Homo sapiens: one gene and its partner. The protein of the gene in region 1 interacts with the protein of each later gene in a pairwise test. Each region holds a gene or a part of one and is shown on either strand. Other genes may lie near its edges.

What was found. The genes of interacting proteins can lie anywhere in the genome.
Region 2: the proteins of SEPTIN6 (region 1) and SETDB1 interact in binary tests that used the Homo sapiens proteins (3 or more experiments, as listed by UniProt).

The regions. Positions count from the first base shown.
Region 1 is NC_000023.11:119,682,551-119,690,326, forward strand, and holds part of SEPTIN6 (septin-6), read right to left. Parts: intron 1-7,776. UniProt on the Homo sapiens protein: Filament-forming cytoskeletal GTPase. Required for normal organization of the actin cytoskeleton. Involved in cytokinesis. May play a role in HCV RNA replication.
Region 2 is NC_000001.11:150,950,363-150,957,750, reverse strand, and holds part of SETDB1 (histone-lysine N-methyltransferase SETDB1), read right to left. Parts: intron 7,294-7,388; coding exon 6,661-7,293; coding exon of another isoform or gene 6,657-6,660; intron 6,387-6,656; coding exon 6,270-6,386; intron 1-6,269. UniProt on the Homo sapiens protein: Histone methyltransferase that specifically trimethylates 'Lys-9' of histone H3. H3 'Lys-9' trimethylation represents a specific tag for epigenetic transcriptional repression by recruiting HP1 (CBX1, CBX3 and/or CBX5) proteins to methylated histones.

The sequences.
Region 1 (7,776 bases):
TCTCTTTCTCTTCTGCCTCCTCTCCTGAGGACACACCAATTTCGTTTTTTAATTGAATATTCGTAAGGTTCATATTATCAAGAACAAGTTATGGTGGTTCCAGCTGCGCATCTTTCTCTCATTGCTGTTACTGAAAATAAAGAGTCCCTTAAGCACCCGAGTAGGCCACCTCTGTCCCCCACTCCCCTTGGCCCCTCTTCCAACCTCTGTGATAGTAAGCAAGCCGTATTTGAGGCCTCTGGGAACTGAGGGTGCATCTGTGTCAATGGAGAATTTCCCGCCTCTGTTTCAAACCAGGGTGGCTAAATTAGTAGCTGTCATTCTAAAGAATAAAAGCAAAAAGTTTGAAACTCATTGCTGATGACTAGGCTGTCCCTAAACTTTCTCCTCTGGCCATTCCCATCCAAATACTAGGAAAGCGGCCAGGTACGGTGGCTCATGCCTGTAATCCCAGCACTTTGGGAGGCCAAGGCGGGCAGATTACTTGGGGCCAGGAATTCGAAACCAGCCTGGCCAACACTGGGAAAACCCGTCTCTACTGAAAATACAAAAATTAGCCAGGCTTGGTGGCTCATGCCTGTAGTCCCAGCCAGTTGGGAGGCTGAGGCAGGAGAATCGCTTGAACGCAGGAGGCGGAGGTTGCAATGAGCTGAGATCGCACAACTGCACTCCAGTCTGGGCAACAGAGGGAGACTCTGTCTCAAAACAAACAAACAAACAACAACAACAAAAATGCTAGGAAAGAAAAGAAACACTGAAACCGGACTCTCTTCAGTCACCTACTGGTGGGCCCAAGCTCTCACACCTCCCTTTTCTCCATTTCCACTCTCAGCCCTGAACACTGATGTCTGAAAGACCGTGCAAATCTCCAAGACTATGAATCATCGGTTCAGTGATACATGATGGAATATTAAGCAGCTGAGAAAAATGTTTTCTAAGAATATTTAATGACAAAAGGAAATGCTCACCAAAGGCAAACAACAACAGGAAAACCAACCTGTATACACAGGGTCATCCCAATGATGGGGGAAAATACACATTTTTTAAAAGATTAGAAGAACACATGCCAAAATAATGTCAGTGATTTCTTTTGGGTAGAGAGGTTGTAGGTGATGTTGCTTTTCTGGGTTTTCCAAATGTTCTACAATAGGCATATTTTACTTTTATAAACAGGGAAAATGTTACTTTTTTAAAAAAGATTCTATGATGATACTTTCCTGGGTAGGAAAGTGGCCTCAGGTATTTTAGAAAAATATTGAACTACAACCAAAAAGGTGCCTGACAATTTGGGTCATCAGAGCATTTAGCTTTCAGGCAGTTTTATTGTATATAAAACATTTATTTTACCAGAAATACAATAAAACCCTATTAGTCTCCTTATTATAACTTCTTTTTTTTTTTTTTTTTGAGACAGTGTCTCACTCTGTCAACCAGGCTGGAGTGCAGTGGCGCGATCTCAGCTCACTGCAACCTCTCCCTCCTGGTTTCAAGCGATTCTCCTGCCTCAGCTTCCTGAGTAGCTGGGATTACAGGTGTGTACCACCACACCCAGCTAATTTTTGTATTTTTAGTTTAGTAGAGATGGGGTTTCACCATGTTGGCCAGGCTGGTCTAGAACTCCTGACTTCAGGTGATCCACTCGCCTCGGCCTCCCAAAGTTCTGGGAATATAGGCGTGAGCCACTGTGCCCAGCCCCCTTATTATAACTTATTATTACATATTATATATATAACTTATTGTCATACAGTATAATTTCTTATTATAATGATTCATGTGAACCAGAAGTCAAATCATATATCCTGAAACATGTAGCAAAAAGTCTTGATGAAACAATCAGGTAGCTGATAGCTTCCTCTGCTGCCTCCAATGCTGCCAAGGATGCCGCTGTATTATGTCATAAGAACCACAAAAGCACTGATAAGTTCCCAGAGGTTTTTTTTTTTTTTTTTTTTTTCTGAGATGGAGTCTCACTCTGTCTCTCTCAGGCTGGAGTGCGGTGGCACGATCTCAGCTCATTGCAACCTCCGTCTCCAGGGTTCAAGTGATTCTCCTACCTCAGCCTCCCGAGTAGCTGGGATTACAGGCGCCCACCACCACATCCAGCTAATGTTTGTATTTTTAGAAGAGACGGGGTTTTGCCATATTGGCCAGGCTGGTCTCGAACTCCTAACCTCAGGTGATCCGCCCGCCTCAGTCTCCTAAAGTGCTGGGATTACAGGTGTGAGCCCCCGCACACAGCCAAGTTCCCACAGGTTTTAAAAACAATTCTCAAATGCATCCAACACATCAAATATCAGAATGTCCCTCATGCTAATTAAGCCAGGCTAAGAGGAAACTGAGTAGTAGCAATGCCCTATCCTGGGAAAGAGAAATGTGGGGGCTGTTCTAAGGAGAAATAAGGCCTGCAAAAGCTGGCAGCACCCCCAAGGGGCCTCAGAAATGCCCTTCAGTTGGGGAGCAGTTGTGCTGAAGAAGCACAAGACAGACTATCCTTACCAGACAGAGGAGGAGGCCCATTTTTGGCAAATCCAATAGATGAAACTGATTTTAATACACAAGATAAATTCCAGAGTGGCTTTTCATTCTATAAAAGGATTCACAGCAGGATTCCATTAAGTAGCCGGCTCTTCTACTGCATTGAAAGCAGGATTCAATAGACAAACATTCAGCTGTCATGTACCTTTATAGGAAGACAATAGCTATCTACACCTACATGGACAGGCAATATCTGAAGGGTTGTTTCTGTTCCACTTACCGAGAGCCTGCTGAGCTAAAAGCATAGATCGACCTTCCCTACGACTCTCTCCCCACCCAGCTCAAGGGGTCAAAGCAGGGAAGGGGTGGGGTTCAATTCTGCCACCTCATTCGGAAGCAGACGCAGGCAAGGACCTAAAAGAAATGAGGCTGGAGAAAAAGGAAACATAAGCACCATACAATGTTAGAGCTGGAAACGCCCTTAAAGATCACCTAATCCAGCCCTTTCGTTTCACAAAAGGGGAAACAGAGACTCACAGAGAGGAAGTGACTTGGCTCACGTCACAGACTGATTTAGTGACAGAGAATAGTGCTAGGATCCAGGCCCCTGTCGAGCCAACGGCCACTCTCAAATGGAAAAGCTGACTCAAGTGGCACATGTGTTTCTTTAGACTGGTAAAATTCCGGGACATTGAGCTTCTGGCTTGATGCTGGTCAGGGGCAGAAGGGTCAAGGAACCGAATCTGGAAACCCGTGAGCTCCCCAAGGTGGTTCTGGCCCACAGAAGGCAACTGAAGCAGTCAATGCGGTGGAAGGCACTCATTGTGTGTTCCTGCTCTCTACTCACTTCCCCACTTTTTCCTCCTGTTTCCCTCTCTTTTGACTGCGGCCTAAGTCTCAGCCTGGCCAGCTGCCCAGTTCTGCTGAAGAACCCCAAGACTAACACAAGCCTAAGTCTAGGTCAAATATCCCCACCTCAGGCCAGGGGTGACCCTTGCTCAGGGTGAGTGAAACTTTCCCACAAAAGCCAGCCAGATTCCCTGGAAGCCAGACAATTGAAAGAGAGTTTTCTAGGTGTTCTGGCTATTGTTACCTCCAATCTGCTAAAAAAGAAAAGGTTTACCCACAGGCCTCTGGGTGAATGCCCAACTGCCCTCTGGGGAGCCTGAATTTGCCTCTGCCTCCATCTGGTCTTGTTTAATGGGGATCTGAAAAAAACCCAGTTCCTGCCTCAGCGCCAGTGTTCAGAGCTGGGGGCCTCCAATGTGAAAGGAAACCGAACACGACCTCACACCTCATCAGGGCCAGGAAAACAGAGTTCTGCCCCGTTACCCCAGGGCCTTCATTCCGGGTCAGAGAGGGCCATGGCAGGGGAAACCTGAGCCCTGAGGCCTCTCGCTGAGAAGGCCTGCAGATCTTTTCCCTGGTCACCTTTAAGTGAGTGGAAGGGCCGGCTGAGAGCGCGCTGCATAATTCAGCAGATGGCTGCCTCTAATGAGAAGACACTGAAGAAGAGGATAACATTATTTCTCACCCTCCTGAGCATGTGGCCTCCTTCCTCTGTGCAGGCGGCAGAGAAACCCACGGTTTCAAATCCCAGCAGCAGAAGCCTCCTCCTGCCAAACTGAGGAGGAAGGGTCTGTGTTTCTAATTTATTCTGCGCCCCCCACTCCAGTTGTTACTTAAAATAATCCATCATTACATGGCTGGTGGCTCCAAGATTTTTATTTAAAGCAATATGGAGAAGAAAAAATAAAAAAGAAAACCCACACAACCCGTGACTGTGCTATATTGGATTTAAGCTGAGAATCTTTTTAATATCAGAGAGTCTCCGAATCACCCTAGTATACTCTTCCCTGGGCCCTATGGGAGTGCTGAGGGAGTGTAGTGAAAAGAGGGGGAAGAGAGGTCATGGCAGGATTTTGATGTCTTAGAAACATCATGAAAAGACAAGTGTTTTTAAACAAGGAATCTGTGTCATCTGGTGGGTGTTTAATCGTATCACCCACTGACCAGCAATAGCACTTCGGACTAAGTAACTTGGTCTCCCTACACCCATTAAATAAAGGGAACAGTAATACTTGTCCAGGAAGCCATTGGGGAAAATGAAATCATACAGATGGAAGCATTTCGAGATCGTTGAAAGAAACATGTTATATATATCCATGGCTTTCCTTCTTTCCTTCTTTTTCCTTCTTTCCTTCTTTCTTTCTTTCATCTGTCTTTTTTTTTTTTTCTTTTTTGAGACGGAGTCTCACTCTGTCGCCCAGGATGGAGTGCAGTGGCACAATCTCGGCTCACTGCAAGCTCCGCCTCCCGGGTTCACGCCATTCTCCTGTTTCAGCCTCCAGAGTAGCTGGGACTACAGGCACCCGCCACCACGCCCGGCTAATTTTTTAATTTTTAGTAGAGATGGGGTTTCACCGTGTTAGCCAGAATGGTCTGGATCTCCTAACCTCATGATCTGCCCGCCTCGGCCTCCCAAAGTGCTGGGATTACAGACGTGAGCCACCGCACCTGGCCTCATCTGTCTTGAATGTAGTTTTAATGTACATGCAACTAAAAGCCCTTCTCAATTGTTCATGCTAATATTAAACCATGGCTCTGATCATCCAAAAACCCAGGCAAGTCCAGAAATCAGCCCTACTTAGTTTGGGAATACCTTTTTCCAGAGGACTTATCTTCCTAATTGGCTTTGCTCAGGCTAATGCAATAGGTTTGCTCCCTTATAGCACACAAAGGCAGTGGCCATGCTTGGTAACAAAGCCAGCAATTAATAGAAAATTTACAGCAGAGACTCCACAAAGTAAATGCTATGCACATGACTGCAGATCAAAATCTCATTAGATGATACAGACAAATCACTCTGCTATAATGTAGTTTTGTATTAAGAACACCGCTAACACTCACATTTCCAGGATTTAGGATGTAAAAAGGAAACAGGGCTTATTCCTGCCTTTCATCTGGAAGCTGTGAGAGGGCAGAGTTCCTGCGTGCCTTGGCCACCACTATATCCTCAGCACCTGGCACGGGGCCTGGCCGATCAGTGCCCAGTGAATATGTGCTGAAGGAATGAATGAAAATAAAAGTGGGTGAATTGGCAAATGAAATGTTCCCAACCCAGTAGCAGATGTGAGATCTCACCCACCTTCACACCTACCCATTTCCTATTTGAAGCCCTCAGGAAGCCCTTCCTGTCACCCTCTGCCTCCATTCATTGCTGAGTTAGGTTCCCTTAGTAATGAAATCTCATGGCAGGCAGTCACTCTCCTGTGTAGCACTTATCACAAAGATAATTAGATAGTGATTTGTGTCTGCCTCCACCAGTTCCTTGAAAGAAGGGACCATGTGCATTTGGGGGACATTGTCATTCTGCCCGCTTTTTATTTTGAAAAATCCCAGGCCGGGCGCTGTGGCTCACACCTGTAATCCCAGGACTTTGAGAGGCCAAGGTGGGCAGATCACGAGGTCAGGAGTTCGAGACCAGCCTGGCCAACATGGTGAAACCCTGTTTCTACTAAAAATACAAAAATTAGCTGGGCACGGTGGTGCACACCTGTAATCCCAGCTACTCGGGAGGCTGAGGCAGGATAATTTCTTGAACCCAGGAGGCGGAGGTTGCAGTGAGCTGAGATCGCGCCACTGCATTCCAGCCTGGGCGACAGAACAAGACTCCATCTCGGGGAAAAAAAAAAAAAAAAGGAAAAGAAGAAAAGAAACATCCCAAACACACAGAGAAGTTAGAAAATAATGTAATGACTGTCCAAAAACCCCTCAAATTTAGAATCAACATTTTTAAATATTTAGGGCCATGTAAACTTTCTTCCGTGTTGTATCACCAATAGAGCTAGGTAATAGGGTTTTGTTTTCTATGTTTGAGGTACGATACTACCTTTAGTGGGTGGTGGTAGGAACGCCTGAAGCAGAGACCTCAAAGGGAATCAAAGGGTAACTGCCACGTGATGATAGCAAAACCAGAGTGCAGCAGCAATCTTTTCCCCACCTGAAGACAGTTGCTCTGAGACAGTTGACCCAGACCAACCCCAGCTAACTTTGTAGGGCAAAGTTAGCCCCTGAAAGTTCACTTGGGAGAATGACCACTACCTAGATTGCCACTAGAGAAAGCTTCATTGTTCACATTGTGGGACTAGTTCAAGCCAGAATCATCCAGATGCTCTTGGTATGGGCCGGCATTTACGGTCTGGATCCCAGAATGCAACATTGAAAGGAACAGCTCATTAAAAGAGCCAGCACATGCAGCTTTTGGGGCTTGCCCTGTGCCTTGGTTACCTTGGACAAGTCATGGAACCTCTCGAAATATATATTAATAGCAGCCCAAGCCACCTCATAGTCAGGGGGTGAGGTGGGGCATCACAAGGATCTTCTATAGTTCTTTAATTATTTCACAGTGTCCACAATTTGTCATTCCAACTAGACTATAAGCTTAAAAGCCACGAACTTTTTTTTGTTTTGTTTTTTGAGACGGATTCCCACTCTGTCGCCCAGGCTGGAGTGTAGTGGCACGATCTCGGCTCACTGCAAGTGCCGCCTCCCAGGTTCACACCCTCAGCCTCCACAGTAGCTGGGACTACAGGTGCCCGCCACCACGCCTGGCTAATTTTTTGTATTTTTAGTAGAGATGAGATTTAACCATGTTAGCCAGGCTGGTCTCGATCTCCTGACTTTGTGATCCACCCACCTCGGCCTCTTTTTTTTCTTTTTTGAGATGGAGTCTCGCTCTGTTGCCCAGGCTGGAGTGCAGTGGTGCAATCTTGGCTCACTGCAACCTCTGCCTCCAGGGTTCAAGCGATTCTTCTGCCTCAGCCTCCTGAGTAGCTGTGATTACAGGCACGCACCACCACGCCTGGCTAATTTTTGTATTTTTAGTAGATACGGGGTTTCACCATGTTGGCCAGGCTGGTCTCGAACTCCTGACCTCATGATCTGCCCACCTCAGCCTCCCAAAGTGCTGGGATTACAGGCATGAGCCACCAAGCCCAGTCCGATCACGAACGTTTTTTAAAGCCTGCTACCTTTTTTTGTCCAGTTGACAAGGGCTAACCATAGTGCTGGCCACATATCAGTCAATCAAGTAAATATGGACACAGTGGAGAAATGGTGTTGTCACACCAAACCGTTTGTGGTGTTCATTCAAATGGGACGGACTTGTATTATGTGCACCAGAATTGAACTTCCAAGTTGGCTGCGTGCAATGTAAGCCCTACCCAACAACTTGAAGGCTTGTTTTAGTCACTAAGGATGTTTACCCACAGTGACTCTCAACTGATTCTAGAAAGAACA
Region 2 (7,388 bases), on another chromosome or scaffold:
GCCTGAATGACAAAGCAAGTCCACCCCATCTCTGAAAAAGAAAAAAATTTTAATTATTTTTAAACAACCATTAAAGGTAATCAGAGGGATCTAGCACATACCAACATTAAAGGAAGATAACACAGTTATACTAAGAAAACTAATTGTTTCAGGTAACAATGTTTTTGCTCTATTTGCCCAGTGTTAGAATTTTACTTATTTTCTTGGTATGTAAAATCAATGGAAGAAATTTACTTTGGAAATGTATCAACAGCTCAGTTAGTTCACGATTTTAGTCATATCCTCTCTCCAGATAAAGATGGTAAGAGCAGCTTCTAGTTACTAAGCATATACTTTTGTGTTTGGCATTGTGTGAATGCCTTATATATACATATTCTATCCTTAAAGCTGCCCTAATACAGGTGGTGTTTTTTCTTTTTGAGACACAGTCTCGCTTTGTCGCCCAACCTCCGCTTCCTGGGTTCAAGCGATTCTCCTGCCTCAGCCTCCCAAGTAGCTGGGATTATAGGTGCATGCCATCATACCCTGCTAATTTTTGTATTGGAGACAGGGTTTTACCATGTTGGCCAGGCTGGTCTTGAACTCCTGACCTCAGGTGATCCACCTGCTTCGACCTCCCATTTTTTTTTTTTTTGAGTCATGGTCTTGCTCTGTCACCCAGACCATAGTGCAGCGGCACAAACACAGCTCACTGCAGCCTTGACCTCCTGGGCTCAAGTGATCCTCCTGCCTCAGTCTCCTAAGTAGCTGGGACCACAGCTGCATGCCACATGCCCAGCTAATTTTTAAAACTTTTTTTGTAGAGACAAGGTCTCATCACATTGCCCAGGCAAGTCTGGAACTACTGAACTCAAGCCATCCCCCCACCACGGCCTCCCAAAGTGCTGGGATTACAGGTGTGAGCCACCATGTCTAGCTTTTTTTTCTAACTTTAAAAAAGATTATTTCCCATGTCGGTAATCCCAGCACTTTGGGAGCAAGACTCCATAGCAAAAAAAAAAAAGAGATTATTTCCCTGGTGGTCTAGTGGGTAGGGGGAAATAAAAGATTATTGAAACGTAATATACACAGAGGAAAGTACACGTAAGTCTATACAGATCAATGAATTTTACAAACTCAGCATACCATGTAACCTGCACCAGATCAAGAAACAACTTTGTTAGGTCCCTTAAAACCCCACTGGGGACATGGGGGTGTTTATGTTAATATCCTCTGTTTACAGCTGATCAAAAAAGATCAGCTCAGTAGGGGCAGGGCTGGAATTTGAACTCAGGTGTCATTATTACCACATGAAACCTTTACAGTAGCTATACTATCATTCATTCATTCCACAAAATTTAAGTGGTTACTTTTTTTTTTTTTTTTGAGGCGGAGTCTCACTCTATTGCCTAGGCCGGAGTGCAGTGGTGGGATCTTGGCTCACTGCAACCTCCACCTCGCGGGTTCAAGTGATTCTCCTGCCTCAGCCTCTGGAGTAGCTGGGATTACAGGCGCCTGCCACCGCACATGGCTAATTTTTGTATTTTTAGTAGAGACGGGGTTTCAACATCTTGGCCAGGCTGATCTTGAATTCCTGACCTCGTAATCCACCTGTCTCGGCCTCCCAAAGTGCTGGGATTACAGGCGTGAGCCACTGCGCTTGGCTTTTTTTTTTTTTTTGAGACGAAGTCTCCTTCTGTCGCCCAGGCTGGAGTGCAATGGTGCAATCTCGGCTCACTGCAACCTCTGCCTCCTGGGTTCAACCAATTCTCCCATCTCAGCCTCCTGAGTAGCTAGCACTACAGGCATGTGCCACCACGCCTGGCTAATTTTTTATACTTTATTAGTAGAGACAGGGTTTCACCATGTTGGCTAGGCTGGTCTCGAACTCCTGACCTCAAGTGATCTGCCCGCCTTGGCCTCCCAAAGTGCTGGGATTACAGGCATCAGCCACTGCACCTGGCCTAAGTGATTACTATGTGCCAGGCATTGGGTAAACTGGTGATACAATGGTTAGCAAGACAAAGAGACAGATAAGATCCTTGCCCTCATGAAGGAGCTTATATAATAGAAAAAAAGAAAAACAAGTCAACAAAAGTTGTCATAAATGCTATAAAGAACACAAACATGGTGCTCAATGAGAGAATTAAGGGAGTAAAATGACCTAGTTTTAAAGTGGTCAGGGAAGGTCTCTCTGAGGAGGTGACTTTACAGCTGAAAGCTCAAGGTTAAAGAAGATAGCCACACAAAGAAAAGTGGAAGGATGCCAAGAAGAAGGCACAGCATGTGCAAGTCTCCAGAGGCAGGCTGGAAAACACTGGTTGAACTGGATCCAGGAACTGAAAAATATCAGTGTGGTTGGAATGACTTTGGAGGGAGACAGGAAAGGGCCAAATATATAACCTAAGGTTAAGAGTCAGAATAAAATCCAAACAGCAGAGGGACTATATTATAGAGTTAAGCAGGGGAGTGATATATTATTTGTGATTATTTGAAAATATTTTTATGAAACATTTCAAACGTGTAAAAAAGATATGAACACTCATGTACCACCCAGCATTATCAAATCTAAACGCTATTGTTAGATTCAAAATTTTGTTAATAATTAAAACATACATGATACAGCAATGCAACTAAACAACTGTCTATTCCTTTGTTTAGTTTTTCAATGTTATCAGTACAAATTCATCCTATGATCTCCCCAGTAGTCTCGATCTCCTCTGAATGTATTCAGGCACCTCAGGTTTTCTGTTAAACCAATTTTCCTGAAGAAGTCGCTCCTACAGCATCTGACCTGCTCCTGCAGTGGCTCTTCTCTATGCCTAGTACACAGCTGTCAGCCTGGAAGCCTCTTTCACTGCACTGTCACCTGTCTTCCCCTTTCCTGCCTTTCCCTCTCATTTTTGCAAATATTTCCAGAAACTTTCTGAGAAGGGGAATGATGAAAAACTCTGAGGTACTGCATGTCTAAAAAAATGTATTTAGCCTACTGTAACACCAAATTGATAGTTTGCCCGAGTTTAAAATTCCAGGTTGGAAATAATTTTCCCTTAGAATTCTGAACAGATTCTCCAATTGCTATCTAGCTTCTAGTGCTACTTTCAGGGAAGGCTGAAGTCATTTCAAGTCTATTTTTTAACGTGTTCTATTTCTCTTCTCTAGAAGCTTTTAGGATTTTTTTTTCCCTCAGTGTTCTGACATTTTATGATAATGTCTCTTAATGGGAACCTACCTTTATCCTTCATTATGTTGGGACCTAACTGGCCCTTTCAATTCAGAAACAAAGATCCTTCAATTATGGGACACTTTCTGAATTATTTCACTGATGCTTTTCTCCTCTGTTCTGTTAATTATGTATTCTGATCACTAGGTTTATTAGTTCACGTGTTTATATATACCAGTTTACCATGCTATACCCCACTCTTTTGTTGTCCTCCTCTTGTTTTAGAGATAAGAGTCATGCTCTGTCACCCCAGGCTAGAGTGTAGTGGTGTGATCATAGCTCACTGCAGCCTTGAACTACTGGGCTCAAGTGATCTTTCTGCCTCTGCCTCTCAAGTAGCTGGGACTACAGGCATGCATCTACCATGCCCGGCTAATTTTTTAAAAAATAATTTAGGCTGGGCGCGGTGGCTCACGCCTGTAATCCCAGCACTTTGGGAGGCTGAGGCAGACGGATCATGAGGTCAGGAGATAGAGACCATCCTGGCTAACATGGTGAAACCCTGTCTCTACTAAAAATACAAAAAAGTAGTCAGGCGTGGTGGTGGGCGACTGTAGTCCCAGCTTCTCGGGAGGCTGAGGCAGGAGAATGGCGTGAACCCGGAAGGCGGAGCTTGCAGTGAGCTGAGATCACGCCACTGCACTCCAGCCTGGGCGACAGAGCAAGACTCCATCTAAAAAAAAAAAAAATTTTTTTTTTAATTTTTAAATCATTTTTTTTGAGACGGAGTCTTGTTGTGTTGTCCAGACTGGAGTGCAGTGGTGCAATCTCAGCTTACTGTAATCTCTGCCTCCCAGCTTCAAGCGATTCTCTTGCCTCAGCCTCCCAAATAGCTGAGATTACAGGCGTGCACAATCACGCCTGGCTAATTTTTGTATTTTTATTACAGATGGGGTTTCACCATGTTGGCCAGGCTGTTCTTGAACTCCTGACCTCAGGTGATCCACCCACCTTGGCCTCCCAAAGTGTTGGGATTACAGGCATGAGCCACCGCGCATGGCCAACAATTTTTTTTTTTTTTTGAGATAGAATTTTGCTTTTCTTGCCCAGGCTGGAGTGCAATGGTGCGGTCTTGGCTCACTGCAACCTCCACCTCCTGGGTCCAAGTGATTCTCCTGTCTCAGCCTCCCAAGTAGCTGGGATTACAGGTGCTCGCCACCATCCCTGGCAAGTTTTTTGTATTTTTAGTAGAGATGGGGTTTCACCATATTGGCCAGGCTGGTCTTGAACTCCTGACCTCAAGTGATCTGCCTGCCTCAGCCTCGAAAAGTGCTGGGATTACAGGCGTGAGCCACCACGCCCAGCCCCAACAATTTTTTTTTAGACACAGGGTCTTACTATGTTGCCCAGTCTGGTCTCAAACTCCAGGCCTCAAGTAATCTTTCGGCCTCACCCTCCTCAGTAGCTGTCCTCAACCTCATGCTGGTTCCACCTCCTCTGCTCAACCTTTAAATGTTGGGGCACCCAGGGCTTACTCCTGAGCCGCCTTCTCTATTATCAACATTGTCTCTAGGTGAACTTATTCAGGCTTTAAATACTCCTGTGCTGATGATTCCTAAATTTTTATATCCCACTCTCTCCAGAAATCCCAGTGTCTTCTTGACATTTCTACTTGGATTGCCTGACAGGCATTTCAAACTTTTTGTTTTGTTTTGTTTTCTGAGACTGAGTTTCGCTCTTGTTGCCCAGGCTGGAGTGCAATGGTGCGATCTTAGCTCACCACAACCTCCGCCTCCCAGATTCAAGCAATTCTCCTGCCTCAGCCTCCCGAGTAGCTGAGATTACAGGCATGCGCCACCATGCCCGGCTAATTTTTTTTTTTTGTATTTTTAGTAGAGACGGGATTTCTCCATGTTGGTCAAGGCTGGTCTTGAACTCCCGACCTCAGGTGATCCGCCCGCCTCAGCCTCCCAAAGTGCTGGGATTACAGGCGTGAGCCACTGCGCCCGGCGGCATTTCAAACTTAACATGGCCAAAACAAAAACTGAATTTCACTCAAACCTACTACTCCTTCGGTCTTCCATCTCAGTAAAAAGCACCAACAACCACTAAGATGCTCAAGCCAAAAATTTAGGAATTGTCCTTGATTCTACTCTTTCCCCCCACTCCATAATCTATCCAATTCTGTAGCTCTACCTATTAATACAGCCCAAATCTATCCTTCTTACCTCTACTATCACCTCCATTCTATTGCAAGTCATAGCTGCAACAATGTCTCTCTCTGCTGTACTCCTATAACGATCTCCTAATTGGTCTTCCAAAATCTACTTTTGCCATCCTAAGACCTATGATCTACAAAGAAGCCAGAGTAATCTGAAAAAGGCAGGTCACATCACTTGGCAGCTTAAAATCCTGTAAGAGCACCATGAATTTGATTCTAACTTTTCTTTTTTTTTTTTTAAGGCAGAGTCTCGCTCTTGTCACCCAGGCTGAAGTGCAGTGGCATGATCTTGGCTCACTGCAACCTCTGCCTCCTGGATTCAAGCGATTCTCCTGCCTCAGCCTCCCAAGTAGTTGGGACTGCAGGCACCCGCCACCACCCCCGGCTAATTTTTGTATTTTTAGTAGAGACAGGGTTTCACCAGGTTGGCCAGGCTGGTCTCAAACTCCTGACCTCAGGTGATCCACCCACCTTGGCCTCCGAAAGTGCTGGGATTACAGGTGTGAGCCACTGTGCCAGCCTGATTCTAACTTTTTTCATTCTGATTTACAAAGCCCTATGTAATCAGGTCCCTGCCTACTTCTCCTCTCTGAACACATTTCACTTACAAGTGTAAATCACAATCTGTTAAGACATTCATTTAGCTATGAAATTAAGATAATCTTTTTTTGCAACAGAAAATTGCTAGATACTATTCAATCATTCTATGTCTTCATTTCAAGGAAGGTCCAAGAAAAAAAATGTGTTTTGGAAGTCATGAAATAAGATCTAATTAATAAAATGCCTCATCTGGTATTCTATTTTTGGTTCCAATTTTTAGATTTCTGATGATTTCTATAAGCACAGAAAAACAAGAACATGCTCCTCAGTCTCTCTGAGGTACTGTGCCATTCCTTGACCACTTACCCTGTGGGTAGACACTCTTCTAGTCTCTTGTACTGGTAGCCAGAGTTAGGGTTGATTTGGCCTCCTGGGGTACAGGCTGTAGCCTGGATAGTTAGTTGATGGCAGGCACACTTGGACCTATATGACAGAGGGAAATAAAGGAAAGGAGCGGGGGGATCAGAGAACAAAAATAACACAATACACATGTACCCAAGGTTGCTCAGTGTGGCCATGTCAGACTCCAGCCTCCCTACCTCATAGCTTTCATGGAGGCCTTATAGCAGGAGTTCCAGGTGAGGGAGGAGGTAAAGGAAGATGGGGAAAGCAGTACAGATACAAGGCAAAGGAAGAGGTGAAACAGACACCATAACAAAGTTGGAAGCAGGGGCAGCAATTCCCCCCACCAACTCACTTGTCCCGACACCCATCCTTGCAGTCACAGCCAACCAGAAATTCAGGGCCTGTGTTAATGAAAACACCCTTGCCCGGGATACGTTCCTTGCTGTAGGCCACCTGGGGTGGAGGGGTTGTGTCAATCTCATTGACACAGGATAGGGGAACATCTTCCTTCCCATAAGTGATGTCCAAAATATAGTAAAAAGGCTTATAGGGCTGAAACTTTCGGTCCACAAGAACATATGGATCCAAACAGAACATCTCCAGGAAGAGGAAGTCACAGCCAGTCTCGAAAAGGTAGCGTTCTATCTCCTGCATTGTCCGAAGGCAGAGACCACAAGGTGTCTTATAGATAACATGAAAGCCCATCTTGCGGTTAACTCGACGCCGGGCTGTCATCCGCCGGAAGTCATATAGTAACGGGACCAGCAGAGGGTTCTTGCCCCGGTACTGCTCATTCCTCATAGGTCTGACTCGAGACAGACAGGTATAGCTGCAGACATGAGGTAAGTAGAAAAGCTTCTCCATGGGAGCACGGTAGGAGGGCTCTGCTGGGGCCCGCTCCAGCATGCCATGGAAGACTGGGGGTGCTGGAGGGGCCGGGAGTGCTGAGGGTGCTGGGGCAGAGGCTGTGGAGCCTAAAGGTGATCTGCAAATGAGATGCAAGTGATCAGATCGGAAGGCAACAGGACCTCTGTTTTATAATTAACCCTCCAGGTAGCTAAGCCATTTCTCTCATCTTTC